3 linked regions of the Homo sapiens genome follow. The protein of the gene in region 3 interacts with the protein of the main gene of each other region in a pairwise test. Each region holds a gene or a part of one and is shown on either strand. Other genes may lie near its edges.

What was found. Proteins that work in one complex are often made in the same cells at the same time.
Region 1: the proteins of TNFSF13 (region 3) and SGTB interact in binary tests that used the Homo sapiens proteins (3 or more experiments, as listed by UniProt).
Region 2: the proteins of TNFSF13 (region 3) and CAMK1D interact in a two-hybrid assay, tested with the Homo sapiens proteins (one large-scale study listed by BioGRID and IntAct).

The regions. Positions count from the first base shown.
Region 1 is NC_000005.10:65,677,110-65,680,609, reverse strand, and holds part of SGTB (small glutamine-rich tetratricopeptide repeat-containing protein beta), read left to right. Parts: intron 1-53; coding exon 54-116; intron 117-3,500. UniProt on the Homo sapiens protein: Co-chaperone that binds directly to HSC70 and HSP70 and regulates their ATPase activity.
Region 2 is NC_000010.11:12,821,547-12,825,046, reverse strand, and holds part of CAMK1D (calcium/calmodulin-dependent protein kinase type 1D), read right to left. Parts: intron 583-3,500; coding exon 495-582; intron 1-494. UniProt on the Homo sapiens protein: Calcium/calmodulin-dependent protein kinase that operates in the calcium-triggered CaMKK-CaMK1 signaling cascade and, upon calcium influx, activates CREB-dependent gene transcription, regulates calcium-mediated granulocyte function and respiratory burst and promotes basal dendritic growth of hippocampal neurons.
Region 3 is NC_000017.11:7,557,464-7,561,549, reverse strand, and holds the start of TNFSF13 (tumor necrosis factor ligand superfamily member 13 isoform alpha precursor), read right to left. Parts: upstream 2,801-4,086; 5' UTR 2,511-2,800; coding exon 2,253-2,510; intron 1,927-2,252; coding exon 1,848-1,926; intron 1,705-1,847; coding exon 1,657-1,704; intron 1,502-1,656; coding exon 1,383-1,501; intron 1,201-1,382; coding exon 1,062-1,200; intron 827-1,061; coding exon 717-826; 3' UTR 552-716; coding exon of another isoform or gene 545-551; 3' UTR 1-544. Other genes in the region: TNFSF12-TNFSF13 protein, read right to left, coding at 717-826, 1,062-1,200, 1,383-1,501, 1,657-1,704, 1,848-1,926. UniProt on the Homo sapiens protein: Cytokine that binds to TNFRSF13B/TACI and to TNFRSF17/BCMA. Plays a role in the regulation of tumor cell growth. May be involved in monocyte/macrophage-mediated immunological processes.

The DNA of each region.
Region 1 (3,500 bases), on a different chromosome or scaffold from region 3:
ATTTATTGTAATTGTAGATACTGGACTGATTCTCAGATATAATTGTTTTACAGACAGGAACTGGACTGAGCTTTGACATGGCTAGCTTGATAAATAATCCAGCCTTCATTAGTATGGTGAGTATACTTTCTTTTCTGCCTCTACTGGCTATGTTTTCCATAGACTATGTAGCTATGCAATTTTTTTTAGAAACAAGTGAGTTTTTGTGGTGGTGGTTGTAGTGGAGTATTGATATAAGGCTATAGCAGGGTTCTGTTTTTTTATTTCCAACTTTTATTTCAAGTGCAGGGGTAAATGTGCAGGATGTGCAGGTTTGTTACATAGGTAAAACGTCTGCCATGGTAGTTTGCTGCACAGATCCTCCCATTACCCAGGTATTAAGCCCAGCATCTATTAGCTGTTCTTCGTGATCCTTCCTCTCCTCCCATCCTCTGCCCTCCAACAGGCCCCAGTGTGTGTTGTTCCCCTACATGTGTCATTGTGTTCTCATCATTTGGCTCCCACTTGTAAGTGAGAACATGTGTTATTTGGTTTTCTTTTCCTGTGTTAGTTTGTTAAGTAAAATGGTAAAATGGCCTCCAGCTCCATCCATGTCCCTGCGAGGGACATAATCTTATTTCTTGTTTTGGCTGCATAGCATTCCATGGTGTATATGTACCGCATTTTCTTTATCCAGTCTATCATTGATAGGCATTTGCATTGATTCCATGTCTTTGCTATTGTGAATAGTGCTGCAGTGAACATACGTACGAATGTGTATTTACAGTAGAAAGATTTCTATTCCTTCGGGTATATACCCAGTAATGGGATTGCTGGGTCGAATGGTATTTCTGCTTCTAGGTCTTTGAGGAATCACCACACTGTCTTCCACAATGGTTGAACTAATTTACATTTCCACCAACAGTGTTAAAAGCATTCCTTTTTCTCCACAACTTCGCCAGCATCTGTTGGTTTTTGTTTTTTTTGTTGTTGTTGTTGTTTGTTTGTTTTTTGAGACAGAGTTTCACTCTTGTCACCCAGTCTGGAGTGCAATGGTGTGATCTTGGCTCACTGCAACCTCCACCTCCTGGGTTCAAGCGAATCTCCTGCCTCAGCCTCCTGAGTAGCTGGGATTATAGGCACCCACAACCATGCCTGGCTAATTATTGTATTGTCAGTAGAGATGGGGTTTCACCATGCTGACCAGGCTAGTCAAATGACCTCTGGTGATCCGCCTGCCTCAGCCTCCCAAAGTGCTGGGATTACGGGCATGAGCCACCACACCTGGCCTGTTTTTGAGTTTTTAATTATAGTTGTTCTGACTTGTGTGAGATGGTATCTCATTGTGGTTTTGATTTGCATTTCTCTAATGATCAATGATGTTGAGCTGTTTTTTCATATGTTTGTTGGCCACATATATGTCTTCTTTTGAGAATTGTCTGTTCATTTCCTTTGCCCACTTTATAATGGGGTTGTTTTTTTCTTGTAAATTTGTTTAAGTTCTTATAGATGTAGGATATTAGACCTTTGTCAGATAGATAGATTGCAAAAATGTTCTCCCATTCTGTAGGTTGTCTGTTTACTCTGTTGATTGTTTCTTTTGGTGTGGAAAAGAAACTCTTTAGTTTAATTAGATCCCATTTGTCAATTTTTTCTTTTGTTGCAATTGCTTTTGGCATCTTCATCATGAAATCTTTGCCTGTGTCTATGTCCTGAATGATATTGCCTCGGTTTATAGAGTTCTTATAGTTTTGAGTTGCACATTTAAGTCTTTAATCCATCTTGAGTTGATTTTTGTATATATATGGTATAACGAAGGGGTCCAGTTTCAATTTTCTCCATATGGCTAGCCAATTCTCTCAGCAACACTTATTAAATAGGGAATCCTTTCCCCATTGCTTTTGCCAGGTTTGTCAAAGATCAGATGGTTGTGAGTGTGCAGTCTTATTTCTGGGTTCTCTGTTCTGTTCCACTGGTCTATGTGTCTGTTCTTGTACCAGTACCATGCAGTTTTGGTTATTGTAGCCCTGTAGTACAGTTTGAAATTGGGTAGCATGATGCCTCAGCTTTGTTCTTTTTGTTTAGGATTGCCTTGGATGTTTGGGCTCTTTTTTGGTTCCATATGAATTTTAAAATAGTTTTTTCTAATTCTGTGAAGAATGTCAATGGTAGTTTAATGGGAATAGCATTGAATCTATAAATTGCTTTAGGCAATATGGCCATTTTCACGATTTTGATTCTTCTATCCATGAGCATGGAGTGTTTTTCCACTTGTTTCTGTTCTCTCTTATTTCCTTGAGCAGTGGTTTGTAGTTCTCCTTGAAGAGTTCCTTCACTTTGCCTGTTAGCTGTATTTCTAGATATTTTATTCTTTTTATGGCAATTGTGAATGCGAGTTCATTTGTGATTTGACTTTCGACTTGCCTGTTGTTGGTATGTAGGAATGCTAGCAATTTTTGCACATTGATTTTGTATCCTGAGACTGTGCTGAAGTTGCTTATCAGCTTAATAAACTTCTCGACTGAGACAATAGGGTTTTCTAGATATAGGATCCTGTCATCTGCATATAGGGATAATTTGACTTCCTCTCTTCCTATTTGAATATGCTTTATTTCTTTATTGTGCTTCATTTCCCTGGCCAAAACTTCCAATACTATTAATTTGTTGAATAGGAGTGATGAGAGAGGGTATTTTGTCTTGTGCTGGTTTTCAAGGGGAACACTTCCAGCTTTTGCCCATTCAGTATGATATTGGCTGTAGGTTTGTCATATATGGCTTTTATTATTTTGAGGTATGTTCCTTCAATATCTAGTTTATTAAGAGTTTCTTATATGAAAGGATGTTGAATTTTCTTGAAGGCCTCTTCAGCATCTATTGAGATAATCATGGGGTTTTTGTCTTTAGTTCTGTTTATGAGATGAATCACATTTATTGATTTGCATATGTAGAAACAGCCTTGCATCTTGGGGATGAAGCCTCCGTGATTGTGATGGGTAAGCTTTTTGATGTGCTGCTTGGATTCAGTTTGCCAGTATTTTGCTGAGGATTTTTGTATCAATGTTCATCAAGGATATTGGCCTGAAGTTTTCTTTTTTGTTATTGTATCTCTGCCAGGTTTTGGTATCAGGATGATGTTGGCCTCATAGAATGAATTAGGGAGGAGATCCTCCTTTTCAATTTTTTAGAATAGTTTCTGTAGGAACGGTACCAGCTCTTCTTTGTACCTCTGGTAGAATTCAGCTGTGAATTCGTCTGGTCCTGGGCTTTTTTTTTTTTTTTTGGTTGGTAGGCTATTTATTAGTGCCTCAATTTCAGAACTCATTATTGGTTTATTCAGGGATTCAATTTCTTCCTGGTTCAGTCTTGGGAGGATGTATGTGTCCAGGAATTTATCAAGTTCTTCTAGAAATTCATTAGTAAAATTTCTAGTTTATGCGCATAGGACTGTTTATACTATTCTTTGATGGTTGTTTGTATTTCTGTGGGGTCAGTGGTAATATCATTTTTGATTGTGTTTGTTT
Region 2 (3,500 bases), on a different chromosome or scaffold from region 3:
GGCAAAATAGCTAGCTCTGAATTGCCATTGCTGATTGGAACACGGAGGGGAGGTCAGGTAATCAAGAGATTAGGAAGTCAGGTAATCAACAGATGATCACAAAACCTCCATGGTTTAAATCTGTCAAACTTTTATCAGGAAACATTGATGAGTACAACTCAGATTTCCTGTTTTTTCCCCCTCCATATCGCTTTAATAAAAGTCAGCTATTCAAAGTTCTAGCAAGGTGAAGAAAGACAAGGGTGATGTTGGTTAAGAAACAGCAGATGAGGAAGAGCTGGCACTATTGCTGTCTTTGATCACAGAGGGGAAGTGTTGAATTGCACACTCCATCCCTCTTACACCATAATATTCCCTCTGAGTCTTTATTACTTGCAGTTAAAATTAGCAAAATTATTCAGGTGAGGTTCTGGGGATTTCAGAAATGCTCAGATTGGAGGGCCAGTGTCACGAGGGGGTTAATCCACGGGGAATTTCATATACTCCACACTTACTCTCCATTTGCTCTTGGCAAAGTTTTTCCGGATCTGGGCGCTGACGGACTCGTGGATGTTTTTGTTGAGGGCTGTGTCACCAGCGATCCTGAAACAGAGGCAAAGGTGCTGCTCTGAAGTGCTTCTTCTGGGCCCTGACACTGCGTCCCATAAAGGGGAGTCTTACCTAGCCTCAGGAGAGCCGAGGCTCAGTCGTGGACAGGGTGGCTGGCCGCTGCCCTTCCAGGCTGCTGATGTCATCACCTGGCCATTCCCTAAACCCACCCATTCTAACCCCTCACCACAAAGTCCTATTCCAGCTTCTACACTCCGCACCCTCCCCAGACCCGCCAGCGCCCTCCTGGTTGACTACTCCCCGGCTCTCATTTTTTCCTTCTTTGACCCCAATTCCTGCAACATCAGAATCCACAGTGACAATGTCTCCCATCCTTCTCCCTCCCCCTCATCCCCTCTGCCTCCACACAAGCTTTTGAGCCACCATGCGCCACCTCCAAGGTCTCACACTTGTTCCCCAACTGGTCTCAGCACCAGACCCCTTCCCGGCCTTGCTTCCCAGCTTCCTCAGACCCGAGGTCCCTCCTCTCTGTCTTCCCCAGGGGCGCTGCTCCCAGGGCACCACTCACACCCGTGGGCTCTCAGCTTCATCTCAGCAGAGCTGAGCCTGCCACATTCTGCTTGGCAACACCTGTGAGCCCATGCCCCCCACCCACTCTATGCTGGGTGACAGGATTCCCAGCTCCACTCAACCCCGCCTGGTACATCCTCCACCCTTGCATCTCCTTGAAATTCTTAGAACTTCAAGGACGGCGTCCACCCTGCATTCACCTGAGCCCTTGGCAGCCCCGGGTAAGCTTTAACTCTAGCTGATTCCTGAGCCTGCCATGAGCAGGGAAGAACTTAGGTTTGCTCCTGGCCTTCTCTCCTGACAGTACCCTCCATCCCACTCTTTCCTCCCTCTGCTGTCTCTTTCTTGGGTCTTACAGCCTCCTCCTCTCTCTCGGCTCACAATATCCAGGCTGAGAATTACCTGGCAGTCTCCCAGCTCTTCCTTCCCTCATGCATGCCCTTCTCGATCACAGCCTCCTCCTCTCCCTACAGGCATCCACTTGGCCTTTTCCCCCTGGGCCTCTGTGCTCTGCTCCCAGTCTTTCCTGGGCTTTGATCCTTCCCTCTTCCCTTCCCTCTAGCACCAAACTATTCAATTCTGGGTTACTATCTGATGGCTAAGAAAGAGTTTCATGAATCTTGCAGAAGTTAAGGGGATCAGAGTCAGAAACCAACGTTATGGGCTGGAAGGTAACTGGTAAGGGAGAAAACCTCTCACCCCTGAGACACTGACTGCCCTGGACATTAAACAGCCCAGACACGGCAACCATCACTTCCAACTACTTCAGGAGATGAAAGGAACACGGCTCAGGCATATTCAGACAAGAGAGAATACCAGCCAGACTTTCTTTCCCATCAGGACTGCAAACAGGGTGGACAGAGTCGATATAAAATTGGGGCCAGGCTGGCCTAAGTTTAGAATCCAGGCTGATGTTCCCAGCTCAAAACAACTCTCCCCCACCACCTTTTCCCAGCAGGGCTGCAAACACACAGCCAAGGGGACGTGCAGGAAATATCTCAAGCAAACTAGGTTTTCATTTCCAACAACTGTCAACTGCCTTCCTTCCCAGACACATATTCCTGAAACAGAAATAGAGTATTTGAATGGGCAACTACATCTGAAACAAGAGTAACAAGACAAAGAGGATGAGAGAATGAGAGACATCTTTATTAAGCTTTTTTCCCCGGAGAGCCCAAGGGAGTGATTCCTCCTGGACCCTGTTGAAAAGCTACATCCTCAGAAAAGGATGCCAGTCCAAGCTTGCAGCGGCCAGCTCTTTCTTAGAAACGACAAGGCCAAAGTGGTGGGGAGTCTGGAATTCCTCAGGCTGAGCACTGCTGCAGGGCAGAGCCAGGCTCCAAAGCAAACAGGCTGGTGCTGGGGTCGGGGAGACTCTGGGCCTCGGGGTCCACCTGCTTGTCCGCAGTGTGGTCTCAGACCCCACGGCCCGTGGCCTGCTGCCTATACTCTGTGTCCCATGCTATATCTGTGGGTTCACATGGGCCCAGATGTAAGAAAACAGAAGCTTCTAATTATTTTAGGAATGCTTCATGCTCATTTCCCACAGTCCTGGGCTGTGCAGCAGTGGGGAGTCCAGCTGGGCAGAAGGTGGCCCCCAGGCTCTGTGTTACACGGTCTTCCTGCAGCAGTGCAGCCATGTCAGGCCACAATAGTGCACCGTGGCCCTCCCCAAGTACAAGCCGCAATGACAACGGTGACCCATGCTCATGATAAGCTAGGAAACTTGCAATAGTAACATCCGGACAGCGCTGATGCTCAGTGTCACTAACTTCAGCACGCTTCGCCAACAAAACCAGAGGCATGGAGTCTAAACATTGGAAGGGATCCTAGTGGTCAATGCTTCTGATACAGCAGGATTGCTTTATCAATCCATATACACACACTTAGGCAACGCTATGGGTGAACACATTTCATTCATGTCTCCCTTGCTTTTCTGTTTTCTTTTTTTTTTGAGACAGAGTCTTGCTCTGTCGCCCAGGCTGGAGGGCAGTGGTGCGATCTCGACTCACTGCAACCTCCGCCTTTGGGTTCAAGTGATTCTCCTGCCTCAGCCTCTTGAGTAGCTGGGATTACAGGCATGCACCACCATGCCAGGCTCATTTTTGTGTTTTTAATAGAGATGGGGTTTCACCATATTGGCCAGGCTGGTCTTGAACTCCTGACCTCCAGCGATCAGCCTGCCTTGGCCTCCCAAAGTGCTGGGATTACAGGCATGAGCCACCACACCCGGCCAGCTTTCTGGTTTTAATACCTACAAGAACAATGCAGATAGCATTTACGTAATCACACCTTTTACAGCCTGTCTCACTATCCACCACTCACGGACCACAGCCTAGTCTCCCCTGCCTTTCGTGGTTTTGTGTTTTGTGTGTGGTCTC
Region 3 (4,086 bases):
AGCTCAGAGGAGTGAGGCAACACCAACACCAGGGCGTACGATACACCCGAGGCTCCTCCGACACCAGTTCCAGCCCGGAAGGGCTTGGAATGGCCTGCCACGCCGGGGCAATGGAGCGCGTGAAAGCCAAACCTTGGGACCCGAAGAGTAATTTGACTGCGAAGGCACCGTCATCGTCGGGCACCCCCTGTAGACGGGCGCATAATAGCTACATCTCTGGAGATAGTGATGGAAACTGGGGTCCGATAGATGGAGAGAAGGACGTAGGATAAGGCTTCTTGTGGGGTGAAGAGGCAGAGGGCACCTGGAGAGAGGTGTGGCATGGAGAACCAGGGGTTTTCCCTAGCAGAGGGCGGCTTCGTGGACTTCGGCCAACCGGCGGGTGCTTCCCTCGAGCGGCCGCTAGATGGTGGTGCTGTTCTGGATGCTTCCAGTGGGCCCCGACCAGGTCTGGACAATGCCTGGCGCCCGTCCCCCGCCCCTCATCTACACACACGCAAGAATTCGGAGCTCCATGGGGAACAGAAGCAAGATATCCGTAAAATCAAAGTCTAGGGGGTGGGAATGAAAAGGGAAAAGTGAGGAACGGGGAGCCAAACCCAGGAAGACGCCTCTGTTCCTGCACATTCCCTCTCCTTTATATACTCAGCTCTTGGCTGTCTCCAGTATGTACCCACCCTGGTCTTCCAAGCTGGGAGCCACTTTTTATAACACAATCACAGTTTCACAAACCCCAGGAAGGTTCCATGTGGAGAGAGGTTAAGTTTCGCCCTTGCCCGGGGAATTATGACACTCAGAATATCCCCTTGGTGTAAATGGAAGACACCTGAGAAAAGAGAGAAAGTAGATTCGCAGTGAAGCACAGCCATCCAGATGCCCTGTTTCCCCCTGCCTTCTCCAGCTCCACCGTTCCTCTGCCTCCTGTAAGGACCCGGCATTCTGCACTTCACTCCTCAGACCCGCCTCTGTTTAGGTTTCCAACCTCCCTCCTAGCGGTAGCTCCCTGCACTGCTACCCCCGGTCAGAGACGTCCTGCTTTCGGCTGCCCACACGGCTCTCACCTGCGCTATAGCAGCTGTTGTAGGCCCGGTCCGGGTGGGAGGGCATACTTCTTATACATCGGAATAGAGTCTCCTGCCTTCCTTGGCCTTCTCGAGACACCACCTGACCCATGGTGAAAGTCACGTCTTGAAACAGGACCTGGCAGGGAAGGGAGATGTTGAAGAAAACAGGATGGCCTGGCTCAGTTCTGGGAGGCCTCAGGAGCGCTAACGAGGGAAGAAAGAAGGGTCTGCTGGGTTTGGTATGAATAGAGGGGTCAGGAACCCTCAGTAGGGGGCCAAAGAGGCCCTCTGTGAAGCTCAGAGTGTGGCTGGGGTTACCTGGCTATACAGCAGATAAACTCCAGCATCCTGGATTCGGACACCATATCCTTGGGCCTGTAGGCCTCTCCCACGCCTAAGAGCTGGTTGCCACATCACCTCTGTCACATCGGAGTCATCTGGAGGTGAGAGTGTGTCGGTCAGGACTTCTTGGCACTCTCAGGTGCTTTTTGGTTCTTTCCCTTTCACCTATAAGGACCCCTTGAGCCCAAGTGCCAGCCCGAGTTCCTGGTTATTGCCCCTCCCCAAAGCCATTATTTAAAATAGTGCTCACCCTTGGAGGTGGCGTTAATGGGAACCAGGTGCAGGACAGAGTGCTGCTCTGAGGAGAGAAGGAGGGAATCTCAGCCGCATCCACTTTCCCCCGTTGTGCTGTTGGCAGCCTCCACCCTCACCCTGACTCGGGCTTACAATCCCCACGCTGCTTGATCACCTCCCACCCCTGCTGCACCCTGGAAGCCTCACTCTTCTGTTTTTGGGTGAGCACTGCTCTCCTTTTCCGGGATCTCTCCCCATTCTCCCAGGCTTCCAGGGCATCGGAACTCTGCTCATGGAAAGAGGGTCAAGGTTAGGTTAAGATGCGAGGGTCCCAGCCAGCCTGCCTTCCCAGCCCTCCCCTGCCCCCGAGATGCCTCAGATCTCTCACGCACCTTTTCCCAGCACCCTGAGTGTTGGTGCTGGCTGCCCTCCAGGATTTGTTAGGTATGAGAAGCATTAACCTTTAACAGTTTCCTTTCCTGGAATGGCCGCGCCCCTGACTTCCAAACCGGAGACCCTCTCTTGCACCCCCTTGAAACTTTGCAGACCAGGAGGCCCAGAGACCCCCCATGCTAACCATCCTCTCCCAGACACCCTCCTCCCCTCACTCACCTGCTCCGGGAGACTCTGCCAGGGATACCCTTCCCCATTCTGGGAGGGGCCTCCTGTCCCCTGCAGCCGGCTCACCTCTCTCCTGAGGCTCTGCAGCTCTGTTTGTTGGGTCAGCAGAGCCATGGCACAAGCCACGGCCCCCAGAGCTGCCCCCCAACTCAACCAGAGGGCAACTGAGAGTGCCGGCTCTCTGACTGGGCCCCCCATGTTGCCTGGAGGCCCTTTGGGGGCTAGCAAGAAAGGAGATGAGGCTGGCATGAGCTGGGGACCCTGCCAACAGCTGTGGTTTCAAGAGTGGGGTAGCAAGGAGGTGGCGGGGCGGGTAAGGGTACGGGCAGTGGTGCAGAAGGGAAGAAGGTTGTTACGCAAGGAGAAATAAAAAGGAACTTGAAAATAAAAAGGAGGGAGGAGGAAAGCAAGCTAAGGGTACTGTTAGTGCTCCTGGCACTCCGTCGTGGGGCCAGCGTTGCCTTGAGACCCTCCACCCTCCCTCAGCCTCAGGAGAATTAGGTTCCAGTCCCTCTAGGAAGGACAGGGCTGCCAGTGACACCCAGGAGGAACAGGCAGTGCGCAGGAACCCTGGGGCGGCCCCAGGGTTGGGGGAGGGAAGGTTGGCTGGCTAGAGGGCATTGTGCCAGGAGCAGGATGGGGGGCCAAGCTGGGCAGTGTCCAGGGTCAGGGCGAGGGTGGAAGACCCTCGGGGTCAAGCACAGCAGAGATCGCTGGGGCAGTTCACTAGGGGTGACTGAAGGTGGGAAAGGAGGGGTGGGCTCGATGGGGAGGAGAACCAGGGGCACGGAAGCAAGAAACTGGCTGAGTTCTGGGGTTAAGGCTGGGCCGGGTGTGTTGGAATAAGGCCTGCACTACTCCCTGTGCTGAAATTGGCAAGCAGGACTTCCTGTTTCCCGAGAAAAGCTCTTACATAAGGCTCTGGACGAAGAGACAAAGCAGCGGCCTCAAGCCCCCCGGCCACTGCGGGATTCCTCCCCAGCACACAGGGTTCCGGGTTCCCGTGTGCCTGCTGACTCTCAGCCCCTCCTCCAGGCTGGCTCCTGCCCGCCCCACCTCCCAGCCAGGGCCTGTGCCAGCACCTGCTGAATGTCCGAGGCCACCAAGAGGAAGGGCCCCTGCTCCTCCCAGCCAGGAAGGGATTTCCCCGCAGGAGGAAGTCTGCCTCCTAGGCCAAGGAGGCCGCTTCTGCTGTACCTTGGGCGGAGGATTGATTTTTTTCCTGGGCAGTGTGCCTTCCTACCTCTGCTCCCACCTGGGGGCTGGAGGCATGGAGGTCCCCGCCCCCAAGCCTGAACATCATCCCGGAGTTCCAGCTGTGCCGCTCCGCAACGCCCCCCTTCACGTGGCCCCCAGCTACCCTGAGAGTGTCCCCTGAGCCCCAATAAAGAGAGAGACTATGACTTATTCTATTTAATATCCATTTATCAACATTTTGTCACAATAATAATAAAAATAATATCTGTTTTAAAAATCCACAGGGAATTCTCAAGGGAGGAGCTTGTCTTGTTTCTCGCCCCTCACATTTGGGAACTCCTGGCCTAGGCCCAGTCTCTTTGGCTTCCTGCCGCCAGGTCCAGCCCCTCTTAGTGCCTGAAGTGGGGTCTTCTGGACCCATCCTTGCCCACAGAGTACAGTGAACACAATGCCCTGGGGGTCTGTGGCCAGGGGGGAGTCGAGATCACTGGGGGCCTCAAAGGGTCAGGGATTGGGGAGCTAGTGAGGTGGAGAGTGGGCGGTGGGGGAGTTGTAAGATAAGAGTGGGAATACTGTATTTATGTGGGATGGAAAACACGTGAACAGGCCCAGGCAGCCTCTAGAGGGA